Linked DNA regions of Homo sapiens: all the other regions are reported to be linked to region 1. Evidence: microRNA targets listed by miRTarBase, many of them from high-throughput screens and not tested one by one. Region 1 holds a microRNA gene; each other region holds the end of a gene's coding sequence.

The links. Region 1 holds the annotated microRNA hsa-miR-6856-3p (UACAGCCCUGUGAUCUUUCCAG, at 1,490-1,511, shown strand). A microRNA usually pairs through its seed, bases 2 to 8, with sites in the 3' UTR of a target mRNA and lowers its output. Matches are read on the target gene's strand: a 7mer-m8 pairs with bases 2 to 8, a 7mer-A1 pairs with bases 2 to 7 and ends in A, and an 8mer does both.
Region 2: the mRNA of KLHDC8B is a reported target of hsa-miR-6856-3p. Seed matches in the 3' UTR shown: 7mer-m8 at 3,278-3,284.
Region 3: miRTarBase lists PARM1 as a target of hsa-miR-6856-3p. Seed matches in the 3' UTR shown: 7mer-A1 at 1,470-1,476.
Region 4: miRTarBase lists SLC1A5 as a target of hsa-miR-6856-3p. Seed matches in the 3' UTR shown: 7mer-A1 at 681-687.
Region 5: miRTarBase lists KCTD21 as a target of hsa-miR-6856-3p. Seed matches in the 3' UTR shown: 7mer-m8 at 2,327-2,333.

What each region holds. Positions count from the first base shown.
Region 1 is chr9:130,624,853-130,628,852 of GRCh38, forward strand. It overlaps MIR6856 (microRNA 6856), which reads left to right and starts at 1,445; the gene lies at 1,445-1,511. It overlaps FUBP3 (far upstream element binding protein 3), which reads left to right. Exons shown (of 19, transcript NM_003934.2): 12 at 1,512-1,653.
Region 2 is chr3:49,173,151-49,179,072 of GRCh38, forward strand. It overlaps KLHDC8B (kelch domain containing 8B), which reads left to right. Exons shown (of 6, transcript NM_173546.3): 3 at 1,089-1,253; 4 at 1,592-1,816; 5 at 1,912-2,013; 6 at 2,455-3,336. The coding sequence ends at 2,651. It overlaps CIMIP7 (ciliary microtubule inner protein 7), which reads right to left. Exons shown (of 4, transcript NM_001080528.3): 3 at 5,332-5,388; 4 at 4,484-4,902. The coding sequence ends at 4,486. Among named protein-coding and RNA genes, the nearest start is that of KLHDC8B, 4.5 kb to the left of the region's middle.
Region 3 is chr4:75,045,791-75,049,790 of GRCh38, forward strand. It overlaps PARM1 (prostate androgen-regulated mucin-like protein 1), which reads left to right. Exons shown (of 4, transcript NM_015393.4): 4 at 373-4,000. The coding sequence ends at 457. The region is part of intron 1 of LOC107986289 (a long non-coding RNA gene); the gene reads right to left. Among named protein-coding and RNA genes, the nearest start is that of LINC02562, 37 kb to the right of the region's middle.
Region 4 is chr19:46,770,993-46,775,802 of GRCh38, reverse strand. SLC1A5 (solute carrier family 1 member 5) reads left to right here. Exons shown (of 8, transcript NM_005628.3): 8 at 56-920. The coding sequence ends at 293. Among named protein-coding and RNA genes, the nearest start is that of SLC1A5, 15 kb to the left of the region's middle.
Region 5 is chr11:78,168,978-78,175,335 of GRCh38, forward strand. KCTD21 (potassium channel tetramerization domain containing 21) reads right to left here. Exons shown (of 2, transcript NM_001029859.3): 2 at 2,272-5,606. The coding sequence starts at 5,577. The coding sequence ends at 4,795. KCTD21-AS1 (KCTD21 antisense RNA 1) reads left to right here. Exons shown (of 3, transcript NR_102281.1): 3 at 4,843-5,000. Among named protein-coding and RNA genes, the nearest start is that of KCTD21, 16 kb to the right of the region's middle. RefSeq lists an enhancer at 4,862-5,363.

The DNA of each region.
Region 1 (4,000 bases):
AGGCAAGCGGATCACCTGAGGTCAGGAGTTCGAGACCAGCCTGACCAACATGGTGAAACCCTGTCTCTGCTGAAAATACAAAATTAGCTGGACGTGGTGGCTCACGCCTGTAATCCTAGCACTTTGGGATGCCAAGGCAGGTGGATCACCTGAGGTCAGGAGTTCAAGACCAACATGGTGAGACCCGTCCCTACTAAAAATACAAAATTAGCCGGGCGTGGTGGCGCATGCCTATAGTTTCAGCTACTCAGGAGGCTGAGGCAGGAGAATTGCTTAAACCCAGGAAGCGGAGGTTGCAGTGAGCCAGGATCCTGCCATTGCATTCCCGCCTGGGCAACAAGAGCAAAACTCTGTCTCAAAAAAAGTTTATGAACCTTGCACTGCAGAGGCTGCGAGATGTTTGGGAGAAAACCTTTTCTTCGAGATCTGTGGCATACCCAGAAAGTTGACTGTGCGCTCCTGTGCGTGTGTGAACATCCATTCTAAAATTGCCTTGTTTACTTGGCAGTTGTCTCATAAGAGCAGAGTGCGGGGGAAAAGCACTCCAATTGTCTCAGCTTTCTGCTGGTTTAGATTCTGGGTAAACGTTCACTTTACTCTTAATCAACATGAGCAGGTTTTGCCCAACATTTCTTCATGTGTTGAAAAGTCTGTGCAGCTTCTCCCTTCCATGAAATAGCTCTTAGCTTGACCAGGTTCACCCTCCACATTTAAGAGAGTTTAAATACTGCAGCTCCAAAATGACTCCGCGGACAGCGGCTGGAATGAGACTTGCTGCTGTCTCAATGAAAGGGCTCTTCCTCTGTCCGCTGTTAGATTTAGGTTTTTCTCTCTGCTGGGTGAACAGTGGGAGAATGCCTCAGAGACTTCTCCAGCCCCACATGGGGAGGAGGCCTTGGCAGGTTCCCTCTGTTCCTCCCTTCTGAAGTATCCCTGAATGGTCACTCTTGAACCTGTTACTGCTGCTGCTGCTTGGGGGCACAACAGCCAAGAAGTTTTCTAAAACTGAGTAAAATCCGTTTATCCTTCTTGCTGACTGGAGTGCCAGGTGTTGTGACTCATAGCAGTGCCTGGTTGGGGAGGGTCAGCAGGCTGTGCATATCTGACTTCCCATAGGCCCAGTATGTGTCCGCCGCAGGAAAGAGGGGCCTCAGCTGCAAGGGAGAAAGCAGTTCTTGATGCCTGTAGATCGGGGCCCAGTGAGGAAAGCTCCAGGGAGAAAGGCCGCTGGGCTTCAGCCTTGGAGTTTGTGTCTGCCTATTTCTGTTGGATACATTTGAGCTGTTTATGTAACCACGTGTGTTCGTCTGCACAGGTCCTCCCCAGATACACCTGTGATCGGTGTTAATTCTGGCTTGAAAGAGCCCTTCAGAATGGGAAGTGTGGAAAGGTGCTAGGTTCTGATGGGTGGCATTGATTACATCCTGTCACTTAACCTCCTCCCTGGAAAAGAGAGGAGCAGTGGTGCTGTGGCAGTGGCAGAGGTCGCTACAGCCCTGTGATCTTTCCAGGAAAGAGACGGCTTTGGAGGCCTGGCAGCAGCCAGAGGAAGAGGTCGTGGCCGTGGCGACTGGAGCGTGGGAGCCCCTGGTGGCGTCCAGGAGATAACATACACGGTGCCAGCCGATAAGTGTGGCCTCGTCATAGGCAAAGGTAAGAGGCAGCTGGGGTTTCACATCCCCCCTCAGCTGTTTGGCTTGAGGGAAGGCAGGTCACGGGACCTCCAGAACCTTTGGTGAGGTCCCTTTGCTGCTGCAGGCTGGGGCTGCCCGGTCTGGAGGCAGTAGCCACCTTCTGCCGAAACCCTGCTTGGCATGGTTCTCTGAGGCTGCTGACGGGCCTGTTGTGAGGAGCAAAGTGTATTATTTCTGGTGAGTATGAAGAGACAGCAGTAAAACTCCCTGCCTGTTGAGGGCAGCTTAGCTTGGTGAAAAGATACCTTGCGCAAGATGGGGGGCATTTGTCAATCGACTGATTGGTAATTAACTCACCTCCAAGGAACTTAGAGGGACGGTTGAGACAGTATCCTCAGTGAAAATTCCTTCTCGACAGTGTGTCACTTGTTTCCCTTACCAGGTTTGAGTATTTGGTCTTGATCCGCGTAACATGTGAAAATGGTTTTTATCCTTTCTGCATATTTACCGTGAGTCACGGACTCTCTGTGGAGGGAAATAAACATTGATGTGTTAGTTTTTTCTGGGCATTTTGGAGAACATTAGGAAGAAACCCTCATTCATGGCTACTGTAGCTCCTTCCTGTCCTTCACTGAGAACCAGGAGAGAGCAGCCACATTTCTCAGCCATTGGCAGCAGTTCATCTTGGCTAGCCCTGGGACCCAGAAAGGCTACTGAGACCAGGGCCGAGGCTGTGGGGCCTTCCCAGTGTAGCAGCAGGGCTCGGCTTCCGTGGGGCTCTGAGCCAGGCCTCGCTGCCAGCGGGGGACTCCCGTTGTCACTGGGTTTCGTATTTGCCTTCATTAGGTATTTGACAGCATGTGGAGAAAACAGTCGTCTCTCCAGAGTTTCTCAAATTTCTTTGATCACCAAATACCCCTTAGCTGCTTGAGGGGCGCTCGTATTGGATAGGCAGGACTTGGGGATGCTTCACCAGCAGAGACCTCCAGAGCTGGGCAGGTGGGAGCCCCCCGACACTCACCTCCCAGGAGCTGCCCTCGTCCCTGCTCACAGACACTGTGGGCTTATGCTCTTGCAAAATGCAAGAAACCGTGTTGTCTTTTAGACTGAACCACTCAGAGTTGGTATGGGTTCGTGTTCATTTGCCGGCAGGTGTGCGGGCTGGTGAGTGTTTGGGGATATTGCAGGCTGCACCAGATGCTGCCAGAAGTCCCACACTACCCAGGCCGTCAGCCTGACCGCTGTGAGACTGCAGCTAGTTGATGCCTGTAGGTTGACGATTAGCTAGATCTAGATTTCTTGGCCTTTTGCAAACTATTTTGTCGGCGAAGTTTTCATTTGCTTGTGTCTCTAAACCCTGACTGAGCATTGTTGCCTCACCATGACAGGTTCTCATAGTGAGCCCTTGGTGCTCACAGAGCAGCCCCTCGTAGTTGGTCCTCCACAAAGTCATCCTGAGTGATTCCTAGAAAACAGTGATGAGAACGAAGCAGTAACTGGTCTGTGTCCCATGCTTGAATAGCAGCCTAAAGAAGCCTAATTAGTGTCTCGGATATGGGAGGGTCTTTCTATGTCACACACACACCGCACTAAACACACGCACGCACGCACGCACGCGCACACACACACACACACACACACCCCCTACCCCTCAGGGCCCATGTGAGACATCTCTTTTCCTTGAGATGGGCGCCTGGGCAAGGGAGAGAGGAGCCCCACGCAGCCAGGCCCATCTTTCCTTGGCCTCTGGCCTGGACAGACACAGAGCCTCCCTGGCCCCTGCTGGATTTCCATGATAAACACAGCAACATTGACAGATAGCTCAGCCAGCCTGCTCTTGTCAGCCAGGCCTTTTAGCAGGTTTGATTAATTGCTTTACGATTTCACGTCCAGCCAGGGGGCCACTGGTGGGGCACTTCTGCCCCCCATCAGGTAGAAGAATGGAGCGGGCTGCTGAATGAGTCTATAGACAGCCACCATGTGCCAAGCTAGTGACCTCATTTTGAAGGAAGATGAACTTAAATTAACTCCTTCTGGCCCCACGAGGTTTTGTGGCGCCTCCTCACCTTATTAGCATGTTCCCAAGGCCTGGGGATGAGGGGCCCAGTGGGGAGGGCCGGGGCCTCGGCTGTCTGGGGACTGCAGGATTCTCAGTCGCAGACACTCGTGTACTTGTGCTTTTGCCTCCAGACCAAGTGGATCTGGTTGGAGGCTGGTAGGGTTCCCTCGAGTCTTACGTGTGCCTGTGGAAATGGTCTCCATTTTGGTTTCTATTCTTTTTTATTTTTTTTTATTTTTTTGAGATGGAGTTTCGCTTTTGTTGCCCAGGCTGGAGTGCAGTGGCGTGATCATGGCTCACTGCAACC
Region 2 (5,922 bases), not on the chromosome of region 1:
TGGCCTCCCAAGGAAGGCACTTCAGGTACCCTAACACCTTTTATTATTTCCTGACTTAGTCCCTTACCCTCAGAGACTGAACAAGAGCTGTAATTTTTACATGGGTGCCCAGGATGTGGCCTTGTCCCCTGTATCCTTTCCAACCTAGATTTGAGCTGCTGCCTTCTATTAACTGCCTTTTCTGGCTAAGGTGGGAGGCAGAGCCCAAGCCGATCCCAGGATGATGGGAGACCCCAGCCATGTTCCTGCCCCACTCCTCATTTCTAAGAGATGGGGGTGGGATGGCCTAATGACTCCCAGGGTTATAAATAGTCTGGGGTGGGGGAGAGGAGTAGGGCCTTGGCTCAGAGCCTGTGCTTAGACTTCCTGCCCCACCCCCAACCCTTCCCACACGCCAGGGAGCCTGATATGGACAAAGGCCAAGCTGATCTGGGATGGTTGCCATGGAAGCCCCCAGCTGACTGGCCCATTACCCTAAGGCCCCCAGACATGTCGTAGCTGACTCTGAGGGTTTAACAGAGGGCAAGAACCTACTATAATGAAAGAGTGTCACACAGAGGTGCTGGCAGGGATCCTGGGGCAGAAGGCTTGTGGACAGTATCTTTACCCAGCAGACCCAAGCCATTCCTCTCCCAGCCCCATCTCCAACTCCAGCTGGTCCCCAGTCCTCCTCCCCAGACTGAGCTCTGTGCTAAGCAGATCCCCATGTTTCTTACCCCTGGCTTAAGCCATCCCCCCATCTTCCTCCCCGAGGGGAGTCCCCACCTTGTGGCCTCCAGGTCTGACCACCAGCCCAGGCCAGCCCTGCTTGGATGCCAGACTCTGTTGCCATAGCATCTCCAGGGAGACAGAGTCGGATTATAATTAGATCGGCTGCCTCCTGCTCTTTACTCGGAGGGGCCCTGGCCAGAGTAGGAATCCCAGATCTCCCAGCCCCCACTGCAGGCAGGTAGTAGAGTGTCTGTTGCTGGGGAGGGATGCTATAAACACATGGGTCTCCAGCCACCCCCAGGACTTACCAGGGCAGCTGTCAGGGTGGGGTACCCTGGCAGGCTGAGGTACAATCTGAACTACTCTTTTCTATGCAGATGGTATGGTGTATGCTCTGGGGGGAATGGGCCCTGACACGGCCCCCCAGGCCCAGGTACGTGTGTATGAGCCCCGTCGGGACTGCTGGCTTTCGCTACCCTCCATGCCCACACCCTGCTATGGGGCCTCCACCTTCCTGCACGGGAACAAGATCTATGTCCTGGGTAAGGGCCTGGGGAATGTGGGAAGGGGGCTCAGAGTCTAGAAATCCTCATCCTCATAGGTTGGCTGGGATAGGGATCAGGCTCAGTCCAGGATGGCAAAACAAGAGAAGCTTTGTTGGGGTGATCCATGCCTGCTCTGAGGCTCTGACCCCTGGTGGTCTTGCTGTGGTTGGAAAACCAAACCCCAGTACCTGAGGGACTGTAGGGTGGATGATTCATGTGCAAGTGTGCACACAGCAGGATGTGGGAGGCTGAGGCAGGCAGATTAGCAACCTAGTGAGCAAGGAGCCCACCAAGCCTCCTGGGCTCCTTCCCAGGTACCCCAATTCCATTGACAGGGGGCCGCCAGGGCAAGCTCCCGGTGACTGCTTTTGAAGCCTTTGATCTGGAGGCCCGTACATGGACCCGGCATCCAAGCCTACCCAGCCGTCGGGCCTTTGCTGGCTGCGCCATGGCTGAAGGCAGCGTCTTTAGCCTGGGTGGCCTGCAGCAGCCTGGGCCCCACAACTTCTACTCTCGCCCACACTTTGTCAACACTGTGGAGATGTTTGACCTGGAGCATGGTGAGCAGTGGCTGTTCTGGGCTGTCCTCCCGCTCTCTGTGGGATGGAGGGGCATAGTGTGTACATGACTAGATCTGACCTCCCCTCTCCTGCAGGGTCCTGGACCAAATTGCCCCGCAGCCTGCGCATGAGGGATAAGAGGGCAGACTTTGTGGTTGGGTCCCTTGGGGGCCACATTGTGGCCATTGGGGGCCTTGGTAAGTCTCTATGGGGCTGGGGAGAGGAGGGAGTCCCAAGACAGGAAAGACTAGCCCCCAGCATGTGTGTCACCTTCTGCCCATCTCCAGGCACTCCAGGGGTCAGGGCTTTGTGAGCTCTTTTCCCTATCTATGAAGTAGGCAGGATGTGGTCTGCCTGGCCCAGCACTCAGGGTGTTCCTCAGTGACTGGGGGCTCTGTCAAGCACCAGCAAGGGTCTACGAGACAGCAGCAGGACAAATGACCACTGTATGCACAGTCAAGAGAACATATAGAAACATAAATGAATGAACAAATGATGAACATAGGCAATGAGGAGCAAGGCCCTGATAGCTCATCCTGGGGTGATAACTACTGGGCTATTCTCTGGGCTTAGGGAGCAGAAGGGCCTGGAGTCCCTACGGCCTGTGCCTCTCACAGCCTTCTCTCTCCTTCTTGCAGGAAACCAGCCATGTCCTTTGGGCTCTGTGGAGAGCTTTAGCCTTGCACGGCGGCGCTGGGAGGCATTGCCTGCCATGCCCACTGCCCGCTGCTCCTGCTCTAGTCTGCAGGCTGGGCCCCGGCTGTTTGTTATTGGGGGTGTGGCCCAGGGCCCCAGTCAAGCCGTGGAGGCACTGTGTCTGCGTGATGGGGTCTGAAGGCTTGGTGGGAGCTGTCCACTGGAGCAGCTCATTGCCAGAGGCAGCTATTTCTATGGCTCCTTTTGCTGCTGAGGACACTCACTGTGGCTCTGTGGGATGAGAGAGGCATGGGGGTGAGCACTTGAAACACTGCCTTGGGGCCTTGGGTTAGGGGAGCCTTTGTCTTTAGTGCAGGACACACATATGCTTACACCTACCTTTATCACCATTCGTTCATGAATCATGCCTAGCTCCATCCTTGCCCTGGGACCTACTAGGCCTTCCATCCAACTGGGAAATGGGGAGAAGCAAAGCTGGCCTCATGCTCTTCAGGGTCAGTTCCTATCTGGAGTTGACCAGGCCTACCCCAGTTGCCATTCCTGAAAAATCTCAGCTGCCAGGCTGCCTTTAGGGTCCCTGCAGACCCAGGAGAGTTGAGAGGGTGGGGGACACAGAGAGAATAGAGAGGATGTGGGAACTGCCAGAGGGCCGGAGCGCAGGAGTTCAAGTGGAGGAATGCTGGCTTTGAGCCCTCTACACTGCTGGTTGTATGACCTTGGACAAGTCACTTCACCTCTCTGTGCCTCAGCATCCTCATCTATAAATGGGGATCTCTGAAACCTTCCTACCCTACCTACCTCACAGGGCTGTTGTGAGGACCCAGGGAGTTTGGATGTGGAAGTAAAAGTGCTGCTAAAACCTAGTGTGTGGACCCTGGTGTGAACTCCCTTGTTTCCACTGCCCCTGCCTTCCTTTGGGGGTCTCAATGCCCCTAGGGATGAGGGTCCAGAAGGAGCCTCTTGGATCTGGTCGGTGTTCCCAAAGTGATTTGGTGTTTCTGTTCCATCTGAGCCTCAGCTTATTCTTTGGCAACATGTGATGACAGCGCCTCCTTACTGTCCTGGGGATTAGAGAGCACTAGGGCAGTAAGGAAGGGCTGTCACATGTCACCAAAGGATGGCAGGATAAGATGACCAGAGAAGTGCTCAGAAAACAACAGAATACCACAAGGTTAGGAAGACCTCCAGATCCAAGTTACAGAGTGTCTCCTTAGGGTCTCTGCTCACCCCCACAGGGAGGGGTGGTGCAGTGGGTTCTGTGGCCCAGGGCAGTCTCTTTCTGTCTCAGCTGTGGGGCAGCCGTCTCTTGGACAGGACTGTGTGGCCACCCAACAAACCCCTCAAAGGCAGCTGCCTCCTGAGAAAGCTGCCAACTCTTCCTTCTTCCAGCCTTTGTCGCCCACTAGTACTGGTCTCTGGGGTCTGCTTTCCCCATAGCTAAACTGAGTACTTGACCTGCTTCCCCAGTGATGCCTTTCATTCTAGGGTGAAGCACCTAGAAAGTCAGTGGCCCACAGGATATTTGCACATTGTCTGGCACGCTGGCAGAGGAAACCAACACAGAGATGTCTCTGGGGGAATGGGCTGTTTCCCAGAGGAGAAAGGTTGTGGGGAAGTTAGTCACTCCGCTGCCTTCATAAGGAGCCCTCCCTCAGTGTCACCCCCTTCACCCTGCCACCTGCTCTGTCCTGACTTCAACTTAGGCTGGGGACTGCCCTCTAATCTTCCTCTCTACAGCTGGGTTTACTGCAAGAACAGAGTAGTACTTGGGGCCCTGGAACCCACCTGATGTGGCTATAGCAATCCTCCTGGACTCTTAGCCTCCTGCAGGCCTTACCCTTTCTCACTTAGTGGCAGGGATCCCAGAGCAGCACCTCCCATGCCCAGCACAGAAACACACCATGGGCACAAGTGCCATGGGAGACAGGCACAGGACCTGGCAGCCTACTACTACCTTTCAGCCTCTTGGGCTACATCCCATTGTGGGCTGCAAGCACAGACAGGCTGCTGTGTCAGCTGTCCTTGTTTAATGCTCTGGACCAGTTTAGACACTCAGAGACCCCAGCATGAAGGTAGTGCTGCAGCAGCTTGGGTCTTGGGATCCCTGGGAGGTCAGGCAGTACGTCAGTGACCGGCGCCTGGGGCCCTACCTTGTAGCTGCCATAGTGGCCACCCTGGGATGGGCAGCAGAAGTTCTGCTGGTAGGTGGTCCTGGTATGGGAAGGCTGGACCTGCACAAAGTGGATGAGGTGCTGGGGGAGGCCACTGAGTCCTGGGCCTGGCCTGAAATCAGCCTGGTAAGAAGATTCCAGGGGCCCCTGCTGGCGCAACTCTATCTCACAGGGTGCCCAGCGCAGGAAGGTGTGCCGCTGCCACAGGCGCTCCAGGTCCTTCCGCCTTCCGATTCCCTGCAGCAGGCAATAGGGACCCTCCTCAACGGTATGGGCCCTTGGCCCACATTCCTGGCACCAAGCACCTTCTTGGGCCCCTCCTAACCCCAAGTCTGCTTGGTGATACCTGTCCTATGCCTGGCTGTCTTGGCCTGTACCCTGGCCTCCTTGGCCTGCCTCCCCAGTGATGTCTTTCATTCTAAGGTGAAGCACCCAGAAAGTTAGTGGCCCACAGGATACTTGCATATTGTCTGGCAAGTTGGCAGAGGAAACCAACATAGAGATGTCTCTGTTTGGGGGAATAGGCTGTTTCCCAGAGGAGAAAGTTTGTGGGGGAAGACAGCCACTCCTCTGCCTTCATAAGGAGCCCTCCCTCAGTGTCATCCCCTCCACCCTACCATCTGCTCTGTCCAGACTTCAGCTTAGGCTGGGGGACTGCCTGCCATTCTTCCTGTCTTCGGCACTCACTTTGTCAAAGGAAGTACGGTTGTCGTGCTTGGAGAAGAAGTGTCGCTGCGCCGGCTCCTTGAAAGACAGTGAGAAAGAAGGTGAATGGGGAAAATGATGCTTATTTACCCACCCTTACCTGGATCACTGCCTCAGGGTCCTTAATGGAGGGAAGTCACCAGGAGCCACTGCCCCTAAGCTGCTAAACTGCCAACAGACAGAGGGCAGAGACTAATTAAAGCAACACTTCAGTCCTGGGATATCTCAACCTGGGACTTGCCCTGAAGCAGAAGCCCGTGGAACCCTTATTGAGGAGGGTCCTCAATAAGGAGGCATCTGCTAGAACATCCTCCCATCAGGGGAGCAGTGGCCAAGTTTCAAGTTGGGCCTTAACTCTTGATTGCCCAGGACTCTAGTCCTCTCCTCCCCTGCATCCACACTTACTCCCCCATCAACATACCCAGCCTCTTGGCTCTAAATGCCATCTGAAAACTGGAATTTCTATCTCCAGCTCAAACTTTCTCCTGAACTTTGGGTTCAGTAGACAACTGCCTACTCCACATCTCCATGTAAATGCCTAATTGAGCATCTCCAAACATATGACTGAGCTTT
Region 3 (4,000 bases), not on the chromosome of region 1:
GAAAATTAAGCCCAGAACCTAAGTCAGAATGTTAGGAATGCAAGCTTCCCTTTCCCATCTCTTCTTATTAAATTACTATGGAAATGGGGCCTCCTCTTCCTTCCCCAGCACTTGGGATCCAGAAGACAACAAGGACTCAGATGATGCCAACAGAACATGCCAGTCAGGATCCTAGCAGGAAGAGTTGTCATTGACAGGGTGTTTGGTAGACCGGGGCCTCCACGGTGGGTGGGTCTGCTGTCCTAGTGAGAGCGTCACAACTTTCCCTCTCCCTGGCCCCATAAGCATCCCCAGTTCAGTGCAGGGCATTACGCTGTCCTCAGATGGGCAACTTTTCCAAGTAATCACAACCCTCTTCTGTTTCTCCACCAGGCATTCCTCCTATGGAAGACTTTTGGACGACCATGACTACGGGTCCTGGGGAAACTACAACAACCCTCTGTACGATGACTCCTAACAATGGAATATGGCCTGGGATGAGGATTAACTGTTCTTTATTTATAAGTGCTTATCCAGTAGAATTAATAAGTACCTGATGCGCATTGAACGACAATCTTAAGCCCTGTTTTGTTGGTATGGTTGTTTTTGTTTTCCTCCCTCTCCTCTGGCTGCTACAACTTCCCCTTTCTGGTACAAGAAGAACCATTCTTTAAAGGTGAGTGGAGGCTGATTTGCAGCTGAAGTGGGCCAGCCTTGCACCAGCCAGGCCAGACCACCATGGTGAAGGCTTCTTTCCCCACTGCAGGACCCACTTTGAGAAGGACCGAGGAGGAGGATTTGGGTTGTTTTGTTAGGGGTTACTTTCAGGGGAACATTTCATTTGTGTTATTTCTTAAACTTCTATTTAGGAAATTACATTAAGTATTAATGAGGGGAAAGGAAATGAGCTCTACGAGGATTTCACCCTGCATGGGAGAGAGCAGGGTTTTCTCAGATTCCTTTTTAATCTCTATTTATCTGGTTGTTTCTGACAGGATGCTGCCTGCTTGGCTCTACAAGCTGGAAAGCAGCTTCTTAGCTGCCTAATTAATGAAAGATGAAAATAGGAAGTGCCCTGGAGGGGGCCAGCAGGTCACGGGGCAGAATCTCTCAGGTTGCTGTGGGATCTCAGTGTGCCCCTACCTGTTCTCCCCTCCAGGCCACCTGTCTCTGTAAAGGATGTCTGCTCTGTTCAAAAGGCAGCTGGGATCCCAGCCCACAAGTGATCAGCAGAGTTGCATTTCCAAAGAAAAAGGCTATGAGATGAGCTGAGTTATAGAGAGAAAGGGAGAGGCATGTACGGTGTGGGGAAGTGGAAGAGAAGCTGGCGGGGGAGAAGGAGGCTAACCTGCACTGAGTACTTCATTAGGACAAGTGAGAATCAGCTATTGATAATGGCCAGAGATATCCACAGCTTGGAGGAGCCCAGAGACCGTTTGCTTTATACCCACACAGCAACTGGTCCACTGCTTTACTGTCTGTTGGATAATGGCTGTAAAATGTTTAAAAACAAAACAAAACAAAAAAGAGGCACTAGTCTATCTGCAATTACTCAACGAGGCATTTTCATAGGAAACAGACTATGATTAATCCATTTATTCTTCCCACACACTTACCTTACTAAGTCTTTGCTTTAATAAATGAGCAACCCTGGGTATAGTCTTAAAATTCTGCACAATAAATTTTGAGAAAGAATTGTTCCTCTTTGTAGGTATCTGTGTATTGCAATCATTCTCAACCAGGAGGTGATTTTGCCCCCTGACTCCACCCCAGGGACATTCAAAAATGTCTGGTGACAGTTTTCATTGTCATGACTTGGGGGTGCTACTAGAAGCCAGGAATGCTGCCAAACATTCTACCATGCACAGCACAACCTACAACAGCAAAGAATCATCCACCCCAAAATATCAGTAGTGCCGAGATTGAGAAACCCTGATTTATCACAATGCCCACTGTGACAGAACAAGACACTCACAGATTAGTGATACGTTTTATTTTTAACAAAATGAAATGATGTGTTAAGTTTTTATTTCCAAAGTGTTTAGTTTATTGGCTGATGGGTTGTTCTTGGTATGCATGGTGACCTTTTTATTTCTGTGTGCTTCCTAGAGAGCTTTATTTCATGGCGACAACTCTGTCTTCTTGTAACAGCTGATATTAGCAAGCAGCATCTTATGTCCTGATTTCATATAGTAGAAAACAAACATTGGGTCCGACTTCAAAATGTGTTGTATTGTCCTACAGTGTCATAAAGAACCTGAAAATGAACTTTTGTTTCTAAAGTTGGACCTTGCTGCCATGACTGTTTAGTTTACAGAAACTTGACCCCGGCTCATCCTGTCTCTGGCTGTGGCCCGGCAAAGCACTGAAAACCCCTCTGGTCTCAGAGACAGTAGGGGCAGTGCCACTTTCTACAACCTGCCAACCCACACACTGGAGTAATTCTGAAAAAAATTATTCCTAAACTCTCTAAGTGTGGACGGAGAATGAGCAAGCCCCAGAAGTATTTTACAACCAGAGTGGGTAATGAGGAGGGGGCTTACTGGAATCGTCATATCTCTGAATATTGAAAACAACAACTAAAAAAGTGGACCTTCTCAGAAAAAAAGGGCAGCAAATGACCAAGGGCGCCCCTTCTGGCCGTGCTTGGCTTGAGTAACTGTCTCTCTTTCCCCACCCCCATCACAGGGCTTTCAGTTTGGCAAAGGAAAAGCAGATAAAAACAGAACATTCCATATGTTTCTTTCTCCATCGGCCAAAAACATTTTGACACAATGTTTGTGAAACACCTTTGGAGAGGTGCACTTCTGAATGCTGCCTCTGCCGTAAATCCTGGGGCAAGGGATCAGCCTCTTCCCAGGAACCATCGCCTTCTATAAACCGTGAACTCAAGCAGGCATTTTTTTTTTCTTACCGAAAGGCTGCTATTGTGCAAGGGCACATAATGGGTCTGTTGCTCTTATTGGCTTCCAAATGTGCATGGCAAAGAGAGAGATGTGGGCCTAGAGCAGATATATTCAGCAAGGTGACAGCTTCCCATAACAATTCTAACACTTCTTATCTTATGTGAGAATAAAATATTTAAGGGTTGAACCTTATTTTGCCAAATGTATCTTTTCTGCTTTTGAATTGGGCAGAAGATTTTAGCAACTATATTCTACAAATGTTACTTATAACACACACACACACATCTGAAATATATGCCGAAAATTGACGTCTTTGACCTCAGGGAGAGCACCTGTCCAGGTCTGCCTAAAGGAAATGGCTCCAGTGGGTCTAAACAACCACATCCTATCCATGGATAGGTCTAGTCATAACACTTTAGAGAGAATGTCAGAGCAGGAGGGAGGCAAGCCGCCTCTTCTCGGCCATCGACTGCAGATGATGAAAGAGCGGGATTCAACTTTGTTTTCTTTTCCTGTGGCCCCAGTGAAACCTCCTGCCCTCCCTGCACGTCTGTGTCTTCATTTCTAAAATGGGGGTGATGCTTTCATATTGACCTCACCCCATACTACCTCACAGATGTGTTGTGAGGATTAATAAAATTATGTCTATGGTATTTTCAGTTTCTGGAGAAAAATACTTATAGACAGTTTAACTATTACATAGATATATAAGTGATCTCAGTTTCTTGTTTGCTGTGATACTAATGTGTTGTTTTAACTTATTCCATAAAATGACAGTTGTGTCCTAGCCACATCAGACAGCTATCTAAGCTCTGGACTACCCCTTTGTGCAGCTGAATCACTGCAGGGTTGACCATGCCTGGTGCCACAGCCATGGTTTCCATTTCTAGATGAAAGGATGGCCTAGGACATAGGTCTCAAAGACTCTTGGATCAGAATCAGGAGATTAGGGAAAACAGGATGGATACCTGAGCACTAACAGCAGTAGACGTAGACCTCTGTCCTTTACCATCTGAGGTCTTCTGGATTCTTTGTGGGGTTAATTTTGATTTGATGTCATCTGTTTGCCCTTCATCTTGCTTGCAAGTGTGCATGGTTCAATCCCTCACATCCAG
Region 4 (4,810 bases), not on the chromosome of region 1:
TTCCCTCTCACCCTCTCCCCTCCCGCTTACTTTGCTGTCATTTCTACCCCTTTAGCGACCGGTCCTGTACCGTCCTCAATGTAGAAGGTGACGCTCTGGGGGCAGGACTCCTCCAAAATTACGTGGACCGTACGGAGTCGAGAAGCACAGAGCCTGAGTTGATACAAGTGAAGAGTGAGCTGCCCCTGGATCCGCTGCCAGTCCCCACTGAGGAAGGAAACCCCCTCCTCAAACACTATCGGGGGCCCGCAGGGGATGCCACGGTCGCCTCTGAGAAGGAATCAGTCATGTAAACCCCGGGAGGGACCTTCCCTGCCCTGCTGGGGGTGCTCTTTGGACACTGGATTATGAGGAATGGATAAATGGATGAGCTAGGGCTCTGGGGGTCTGCCTGCACACTCTGGGGAGCCAGGGGCCCCAGCACCCTCCAGGACAGGAGATCTGGGATGCCTGGCTGCTGGAGTACATGTGTTCACAAGGGTTACTCCTCAAAACCCCCAGTTCTCACTCATGTCCCCAACTCAAGGCTAGAAAACAGCAAGATGGAGAAATAATGTTCTGCTGCGTCCCCACCGTGACCTGCCTGGCCTCCCCTGTCTCAGGGAGCAGGTCACAGGTCACCATGGGGAATTCTAGCCCCCACTGGGGGGATGTTACAACACCATGCTGGTTATTTTGGCGGCTGTAGTTGTGGGGGGATGTGTGTGTGCACGTGTGTGTGTGTGTGTGTGTGTGTGTGTGTGTGTGTGTTCTGTGACCTCCTGTCCCCATGGTACGTCCCACCCTGTCCCCAGATCCCCTATTCCCTCCACAATAACAGAAACACTCCCAGGGACTCTGGGGAGAGGCTGAGGACAAATACCTGCTGTCACTCCAGAGGACATTTTTTTTAGCAATAAAATTGAGTGTCAACTATTTAATCAGGTGTTCTTGAGAATTTGACTTAAAGCACTGGCCACTGCAATGACAGTATCTGCTCATCAAGAAACACCACTGGGCTGGGCATGGGGGCTCACACCTGTAATCCCAGCACTTTGAGATCACTCCAGGCCAGGAGTTCAAGACAAGCCTGGGCAACATAGTGAGACATCGTCTCTACAAAAAAATACAAAAATTAAGGCCGAGCACGGTGGCTCACACCTGTAATCCCAGCACTTTGGGAGGCCGAGGCGGGCGAATCACGAGGTCAGGAGTTCAAGATCAGCCTGGCCAACATGGTGAAACCCTGTCTCTACTAAAAATATAAAAATTAGCCAGACATGGTGGTGGGCGCCTGTAGTCCCAGCTACTCAGGAGGCTGAGGTAGGAGAATTGCTTGAACCCGGGAGGCAGAGGTTGCAGTGAGCCGAGATCGCACCACTGCACTCTAGCCCGGGTGAAAGAGCAAAACTCTGTCTCAAAAACAACACAAAAAATTAGGCAGGTGCAGTGGTGCACACCTGCAGTCCCAGCTACTCAGAAGTCTGCGGTGGGGAGGATTCCTTGAGCCCAGGAGTTTAAGGATGCAGTGACCCATGATCATGCCACTGCACTCCAGCCTGGGCAACAGAGTGAGACCCTGTCGCTTTTTTTTTTTTTTTTTTTTGAAACGGAGTCTGGCTCTGTTGTCTGGGCTGGAGTGCAGTGCAGTGGCACGATCTTGGCTCACTGCAACCTCCGCCTCCCAGGTTCAAGCGATTCTCCTGCCTCAGCCTCCGAAGTAGCTGGGACTACAGGTATCTGCCACCATGCCCAGCTAATTTTTGTATTTTTAGTAGAGACCGGTGCCTCAAGTGATCCACCCACCTTGGCCTCCCAAAGTGCTGGTATTACAGGCGTGAGCCACCACGCCCAGCCAGACCCTGTCTCTTAAACACCACGGGAAACCACAATGAGACACCACTATACACAGTAGAATGGCTGAATACAAGACCAAGGGAGGATGGGATACAACAGGACTCCTCATCTCTTGGTTGGTGCTCCCTTAGTAGATGGCTGAGTTGTTTTGGAAAATAACTGGGCAGTTTCTTAATAAAGTTAAAAAATACAGGCTGGGTGCAGTGGCTCACGCCTGTAATCCCAACACTTTGGGAGGCCGAGGTGGATGGATCACCTGAGGTCAGGAGTTCGAGACCAGCCTGGCCAACATGGTGAAACCCCGTCTCCACTAAAAATACAAAAATTAGCCGGGCGTGGTGGCACATGCCTGTAGTCCCAGCTACTTGGGAGGCTGAGGCAGGAGAATCGCTTGAACCCAGGAGGCAGAATGTTGCAGTGAGCCAAGATCTCACCATTGCACTCCAGTCTGGGTGACAAAAGCAAAACTCTGTCTCAAAAAAAAAAAAAAATATATATATATATAATATATATTTATTTACTATGCAGCTTAGGAGTTGCACTCCTGGGTATTTACCCAAGAGAAGTGAAAACTTTTGCTTTTACAAAAATGTGTCCACAAACGTTTAGCTGCTGTACTCATCATTGCCAAAATTTGGGAACAAATCAATTGGATACACTGGTACATTCATACAATGGAAGATTACTCAGCAATAAATAAGAGCGATATCGACCTACACTGCAACAGAAATGCATTTCAGATAATTTGTTGAGATAAAGAAGCCAGAGACGGTAAATACTGTATAGTTCCATTTAGAGGAGGGCTAGAACATGCTCAACTGGCCTATGGTGGGAAATCAGAACAGTGGTGACCTTTGAGAATGAATATGGGGCCAGGCACGGTGGCTTCATGCCTGTAATCCTAGCACTTTGGGAGGCCGAGGTGGGCGGATCATGAGGTCAGGAGATCGAGACCATCCTGGCTAATATGGTGAAACCCCATCTCTACTAAAAATACAAAAAATTAGCAGGGCATGGTGGCGGGCGCCTGTAATCCTAGCTACTCTGGAGGCTGAGGCAGGAGAATGTGGTGAACCCAGGGGGCGGAGCTTGCAGTGAGCCGAGATTGTGCCACTGCACTCCAGCCTGGGTGACAGAGCAAGACTCCATCTCAAAAGAAAAAAAAAATAGCATATTGATCAGAAGGGAGCACAAAAGAACCTTCTATGATAAAGCAAATATCTTACCTTGATTTGGGTGATGATTCCACAGATGGATGCATTTGGGAAAGTTAACGAACCTGTACACAAATCACATGCATTTTGCCCTGTGTGCCTTCCAGTTAAATTTTTTCTACAATCTGGGTGTGGTGGTTGGTACGTATCTGGAGTTTCCACTACTCAAGAGGCTGAGGCGGCGAGAGAATCACTTGAGCTCAAGGGTTCAAGGCTGCAGTGAGCTATGATTATGTGACTGCACTCCAGCCTGAGCAACAGATTGAGACCCTATCTCTTAAAAAAATCTGCACAAGGAGAATCGCTTGAACCCAAGAAGTGGAGGTTGCAGTGAGCCAAGATTGCGCCACTGCACTCGAACCTGGGCAACAGAGCAAGACTCTCTCAAGAGCAACAACAACAAAAATCTGCACAACGCATGGTAACAATTTATTTTCCTTTGTGACCACCTACTTAGGAATGCAGCATCCCTTCATATCCCAACTCTCACTATCCAAATTGTCCCAAGAATTATTTTATTTCCTTGAAACCCCAAAATAGCTATTTGGATAAAAACCCACTCTGCAACTGTTTTACATCCTGTGTAAGTTCAGAATATGGACTATGCTGGCCGGGCGCGGTGGCTCACACCTATAATCCGAGCACTTTGGGAGACTGAGGCGGGTAGGTCACCTGAGGTCAGGGGTTCGAGACCAGCCTGACCCATATGGGGAAACCTCATCTCTACTAAAAATACAAAAATTAGCTGGGTGTGGTGGTGGGCACCTGTAATCCTAGCTACTTGGGAGGCTGAGGCAGGAGAATCGCTTGAACCCGGGAGGCAGAGGTTGCAGTGACTGGAAATCATGCCACTGCACTCCAGCCTGGGCGATAGAGTGAGACTCTGTCTCACCGCCCCCCCCCCAGAAAAAAGTACTATGCTGCTGTTGTATCTCACCTGTTCTTTTGAGACAGGGTCTCTGTTGCTCAAGCTGAGTGCAGTGGTGCTATCATGGCTTACTGCAGCCTCAACTTCCCGGACCTTAGCAGTTTTCCTGCCTCAGCATCCTGAGTGGCTGGAACTACAGGTGCACACCACCACACCCAACTAAATATTATTATTATTATTATCATTATTTTGAGACGGAGTTTTGCTCTTGTCACCCAGGCTGGAGTGCAATGGCGCGATCTTGGCTCACCGCAACCTCTGCCTCCCGGGTTCAAGTGATTCTCCTGCCTCACCCTCCTGAGTAGCTGGAATTACAGGCATGAGCCACCATGCCAGGCTAATTTTGTATTTTTAGTAGACACAGGATTTCTCCATGTTGGTCAGGCTGGCCTCAAACTCCCGACCTCAGGTGATCTGCCTGCTTTGGCCTCCCAAAGTGCTGGGATTACAGGCATGAGCCACCACGCCCGGCCGCTAATTTTTATTTGTAGAGACGGGGTCTCACTATGTTGCCCAGACTGGTCTCAAACTCCTGGACTCAAGTGATCCTCCCACTTTGGCTTCCCAAAGTGCTAGAATTACAGGTCTGAGCCACTGCACCCAGCCCTACTTCTCACCTGTTCTAACAGGATTCTGTTTTGTGCGTTGAATGTGTTAGCCATTGTTGATATTATCTTCCGCTTCCAAACCCCCTGTGTTGACTTTGGCCAGGTGCCTGGAGGCACCACTGACCTGGGTCCAATTATAGACGGTATCTTTAGTATCTTTTTGTTTGTTTGTTTGTTTAGTTATACCCCATGATCATTGCACTGCGGAAGGAAAATATAATTTA
Region 5 (6,358 bases), not on the chromosome of region 1:
GCTTGGTGAGCCCCCGTTGGTCCCTGTGCCCCAGACTGGGGCGAGTGTGTCACTGGACTGTTTCCACAGCTCGGTTGGTGCCACACTGTCCCGAAGGTTCTGAAGGAGACTGAGGTCACCAGGCTGTCTGGGCAGACAGAGCTGCCAGACTCTCGTCCCTCCCTTTGATGGGCCTGTTATCAGGGTTGTTTTGCTCCTGGAGCTGATCACAGGCCACGTTTCCCAGCCAGCCACCCCCATCAGCCCAGAGCCCCCTGGGACACAGGCAGACGTAGGCAGTCAGTTTGGAGAGACTGCAATTCAGGAAAGGGATAGGCTGAAATTTCTTGGGCCAAGAAATTGGCCCAGGACTGACCTTGGCTAAGCCCCCACTGATGACAGACGGATTTTTTTTAAAGATTATTTTCTTTAGACATTCTTGCTCTGTCGCCCAGGCTGGAGTGAAGTGGTGTGATCTTGACTCACTGCAATCTCTGCTTCCTAGGTTCAAGCAATTCTTGTACCTCAGCCTCCCGAGTAGCTGGGATTACAGGCACGCACCCCTATGCCTGGCTTATTTTTGTATTTTTAGTAGAGACAGGGTTTCACTATGTTCATCAGGCTGGTCTCGAACTCCTGACCTAAAGTGATCCGCCTACCCTGGCCTCCCAAAATGCTGGGATTACAGGTCTGAGCGACTACACCTAGCCTGATGACTATTTTGTTGTTGTTGTTGTTTGTTTTTTTGAGACGGAGTCTCACTCTGTTGCCAGGCTGAAGTGCAGTGGTGCAATCTGGGCTCACGGCAACCTCCGCCTCCCAGGTTCAAGCTATTCTCCTATCTCAGCCTCCCAAGTTGCTGGGACTACAGGCATGTGCCACCATGCCTAATTTTTGTATTTTTAGTAGAGACGGGGTTTCACCATGTTTGCTAGGATGGTCTTGATCTCTTGACCTCGTGATCCGCGCACCTCGGCCTCCCAAAGTCAGACTGTTTTAAGAGTAATTTGTAAAAGGAAGCTGGAAGTTTGGGGTGAATGGGTGGTTACACAAATGCTGTGTGATTTAGGGTGCAGTTTACAAAAGAGTGGCTGCGTCCTAGGCTGCAAATTCTGAGGTGTGGGCAAGTGGGGACCTTGGCCACCCCTGCACAGGGAGATCTGGCCCAAAGGCAGACCAGGGTCATGAGGCTAGGCCCTTCTTAAGAGGGTGGAGGGCTTTTGGAGGTGCTGAGGGCATGAGGTCAGAGTGGTGCCTGCTGCTGGCCTTCAAGCATGCAGGGTCCCTGTTTGGTGGTGGGCCTCATGAAGGAGTCACACCAAGGTGGGTGCTTAGGGTTCCCTCAAGCACCCATTCTGTCCCTCTGCATGCAGGGGACCACACCTAGGGCAGGAACTGAGAGCTGACGAGTGTTGTGTTCCCGGCGTTGCTCCTTCAGCTGGGATGGAGCCCTTGGCGGGATAAAAGGCTAAACTGGGTCCAGGTGAGATCACCACAAGGTCTCACCCAGGGCAATGAAGGGCTCACAAGCAGCACATCCCTGCTCACAGTTCGCACTCAGACTCACCCGTCTGTCGATGGTGCTGCCATCACTGCTGAACGTTTGTTCTCCGTCTTTCTCATGCTTTTGCCAAGCAGAAGGCTGAGTTCACCTAACCTGGACGCAGGCAACGAGATGCACTGCGTGCCCCCCTTCCCCTTGTGCAGCTGTGGTGTGAACGCATACCCTCCCTTGCTTGCCCTTCCTGCCTGGTTGCCAGCTCTGCTCTTGCTGTTCCCTGTGCCCACGGCACTCTCTTGCTTATTCTGTCAAGCCTGACCTACCCTCAGAGGCCCACCTTGGCCATCCACAAGGCTCCTTCTGAGAACTGAGCCCTTTCCCTGAGTTCCCAAAGCACGTTGTGTGAAGCTCTAAACTTTCTCCAGGCTGAACTTAGCTTACTCGTGGCTGTTCACATCCTCAGGGCCCACGCAGCAAATGCTCTGTAAGGGCTTGTTAAACTCCACTCTCCTGGGACTCCTAGTCCCCCACCAGAGTCCACCATGACTACCTCCTGCAAGAGCACTGAGCTCTTGGGTGCCAGGCCCAGCTCAGGATTTTCACAGACACCAACTCGTTTAAGTTGCATAACCCCGGGAGGAAGGGGTTGTTACCTGATGAGCAAACAAATCAGAGAAGTTCAATGACTTGTCCAAGGTTACAGAGGCTTGGAGCTCTGGATTCAAACCCAAGTCACTGTGACTCAAGACCAGTGTTTTTCCCCGTTACAAGCAGACACAAAAGAATAACAATCCTTTATCATTTATACTGTATTCTCACGTTACATTATTTCATTTGATCCTCACAACAGCCCTGTGAGGTAGGTAGGGTTATGTATTACTGTTATGCCTATTTCACAGATGAAGAAATGGAGGTGGCTCAGTGAGGTGAGTGACTTGCATAAAGTCACACAGCATGTTAGTGGCTTCACTGCTTCTGCAACTTCTCTAAAGTCAAGCTGCTTGGATTAGGGAGCACCGAAAAGATGGACAGTTTTATGGAAAAGGAGAAAGGGCAGTGGTGATTTGTAAGATTTCTTCCTCAAATTGTTTTGTTATGACCACAGCTTCTGCTACTTGGTCTAAACTAGGTTCTCCATGAGGGGCTCTCCCAAGTACCCTTGGCCTGGGACAGCTGTCTTTTTTTGGGATGGAGTCTCTCTGCAATGGCACACTCTCAGCTCACTGCAACCTCTGCTATCTGGGTTCAAGCGATTCTACTGCCTCAGCCTCCCAAATAGCTGGGGTTATAGGCGCCTGTCACCACACCCAGCTAATTTTTGTATTTTTAGCAGAGACGACGTTTCACCATGTTGGCCAGGCTGGTCTTGAACTCCTGACCTCAAGTGATCTTCCCGCCTCGGCCTCCCAGAGTGTTGGGATTACAGGCATGAGCCACTGTGCCTGGCAGAAAAGCTGTCAGAGAGACTCCTGGGTCCCACCGTAGGGGGAAAAGGGCCTTTACTGCTCAAGGGAACTGGCGCTGCCCATGGCCCAGTGTACAAGCTCCCTACTCACAGGGCCTATCTATGGGAAGCCCCTTTCTGGGCCCACCTCCCATGGGTGCCTGTGTCACCAGGCTTCCTTGGCTTTGAGGACCCCTGCCCAGTGGGGGAGGACCCTGGGGACTCTCAAGGCCAAACTCACTTTAGGGATGAATCATGACGTGCAGTTTGGAGGCCTGCATGGCTCATCACCCGGTGGGAAGCAGTGCTTGGGTTGCTTGCCCTGGATGGCACCCTACAGAGACCCAGGGGTGGGACACAGGACTGCAGGGGAAGGCCGCCTTCCTGAGGGCAGGGTCTTAGGGGCCGCACATTTACTCTAAGGGCACTGTTACGGTTCATACCACTCCTGGGCTCCTTGCTGCACAGCACCCTTGGAGACCGTCTCTTTCCTCTGGATCTCCTCAGGGGCCGTGAATCTTCCTCTTCCAGCAGAAAATGGTCGAAAGGTATATGGAGCCACAGATGGTGGGGAAGGTGGGTGAAGTGGGGGTCACAAACGAGGTGAAGCTACAACAAAAGGGGACTGACTTACAGGGGATAGAAAAGAGCTAACTTTGATTCTGAAGACAGATCCCAGAGGGGAATCTGAATTCTGAGTAATGATGTTTTCAGAAAAATGTCTGGTCTCTCAAGGTGACTATTTTGAAAGCAAAGATATATAACTGGGTGAATGGGAAGGTCTGCAACCAAGATCCAGCAAGTGGCAGGACAGATTTTGGCTCAATATAGGGAAGAACTGTCTAACAGTCAGCACTGTCCAACCACAGCAGGAGCTGCCTTGGGGATGGCGCGCTTCCTATCAGCCAAGGTATGCAAGCAGGCCAAGGTGATCACTTGCAGGTACCCAGGGAGAGGCGCTCATCTTCAGATGTGCTGGGGTGTTCTAGGGGTGGGGGAGGACTAAGCAATCATCGAATTATTTCCAACCCTGAGAATCCGTAATAGATTTGTTTAAAATGACCTGTTTCAATGATACCTCAAATTTTTGGGAAAACAATGACAAAAGTCAGGTAACAGGCTGGATTTGGAAGTGATTTCATTACACTGGCTACAGATACTTGCACATTTTTGCAAAGATAGCAGACCCTTTCTAAAGCCAGGAATCCCTTGATTCAGCCCTATCAAGAGGGACATTCCTACCTTCTGAACTCTGCCTGGACACTCATTCCTCTAGACCCTGCCACACCTCATCTCTGACCCCCAAGAGGGGACACTAACAGAGCTCTGAGAATGCACAGCATTCCAAGCCAGCCAAACATGGTCACCCCTGGGCAAACATCCACGATCATGGATGCACCCTGGGGAGGGAGGAGCAGGTGTGACAGGAACCGCTGGGGACTTTATGTCCTGGTTAACTGGAGGTAGCCTCTTGTTCTCATCCCATCCTCTCCACCAGGGCCTTCTTACAGATGGATAAATGCGGCACTGGCTAGCGGTACAGAGAGATGGAGCCCAGGAGAAAACTGCTGCTCTTTTGTCCTGGCTGGAAAATCCTCCTATGGCCTCCTTTAGTACACATCAGCTGACTCTTCACTTGTCATAATAAACCGCCTGTCTGCAGCTCAAAATGGCAAGAAAAAAGGTGGTTCTGTTCAGAGGACACTGGATTCCAAAAGGTGGACTTCATCATGGGGGGAATCAAGTCCTGCTACACAATTAATACAGATTAGTATAGTCCCCTGCCTCGCACCACTGGCGAGATGCCCTCCAAGACCTGGCTGACATGAGCTTCCTGGGACTCCCCATCTCCAGTGTTGTTGGGGTCCTTTTACCTGTACCGTATTAATCGAATAATCTTATTGTTCATAAAATCCAGAGCATGTGGGTGAGAAGAATCGATGCAGAAGCCATCGCTCAGAGCGATTTTCAGTACCTCTTCCACGAAGACCTGGAAGCTGTTGATCTGCTTGTTGGCGGGCACCACCCAGAGCCTCTTGAGGTTCTGCTTGGTGTACTCCTCCTCTGGCAGGCCCTCCACATTGGCCACCCAGTCCAGAGTCAGGTGGTTGGGGTCCTGCAAGTGGCTGGTGATGGAGGAGAGATTGCCATTGGAGCAGTAGAAGAGCTTAGAGCCAAGGAGCTTGAGGAAGAGGCAGGAGGTGCTGAAGATGTTGGCGTTGAAGACCTCCATGCTGGAAGAGGAGAGGCTGTAGATCTGGGGTGCCTCGCGCACAGTGAAGTGGACCGTCTGCACACGCTGGTTCAGTGTGATGTTGAGCATGGCATTCTTCTCGGCCTTGGAGAGCTCCACTTCCTTCTCCTGCAGGGCCTCAATCAGGGGCTGCACCTGGTAGAAGTCGGCCTCCCTGCGGAGCAGCCCCATCTCCTGGAAGTCCTCAGGCAGGTCAAGGTGGGAGGTCCGCAGGAAGTTGAGGATATAGCGGAACACTTTGCCGTCACGGTCAATGAAGCAGTTGCCCTGGCTGTCCCTCTTGGTGGGCATCTTCCCGCTGAACATGGCGCCTAGCATGGAGTCAGGGAAGCTGGTCAGGGTCGCCAGTGAGGTTGTATAGAGCTTCCCCCCGACGTTCAGCGTGATGGGGTCGGACATGGCAGGAGACTGGGTTGCTGGAAGTAGTCCTGGAGAGGGTGAGAAGTGAGAAATGACTATAACCAAACCTTATCAGAGAACTCACAGTCCTTAACTCCTTATTGTACATCAAGCCTATGCCCTTGGGATCGAAATGAATTAATACCTGATGAATGGGTGATAATTGCTAACACTGTGCAAAGTACATTAGCTTCACTAGGGAGAGGGAAAGGAGAAAGGGAAAAGGAAAGGAAAAAGGAAACAGGGAAAGAAAGGGAAGGACCCCTAAAGCCTGGGTCCCCCGCGCCCCCCTCTGCTGCCGACATTCTATTTTAATTGGTCTGGAATACTGCCCCAGCCCTGGTATTTTGAAAGAGTTCCCTTAGTGATTCTAAATGTTCAGTTAGAATAGAGAACCACTGGTCTAAAGAAAGAAAGGAAAACGTGCCTGGACTGAAAGCTATGCTACGTGTTTATACATATATTTGCTTACATAATAGTTGTATCAGCCAGGTGCGGTGGCTCACACCTGTAATCCCAGCACTTAGGGAGGCCGAGGCGGGCAGATCACCTGAGATCAGGAGTTCAAGATCAGACTGGCCAACATGGTGAAACCCCATCTCTACTAAAAATACAAAAATTAGCTGGGCATGGTGGTGGGTGCCTGTAATCCCAGCTGTTCAGGAGGCTGGGGCAGGAGAATCATTTGAACTCAGGAGGTGGAGGTTGCAGTGAGCCGGGACTGAACAACTGCACTCCAGCCTGGACAACAAGAGTGAAACTCTGTCTCAAAAAAAAAAAA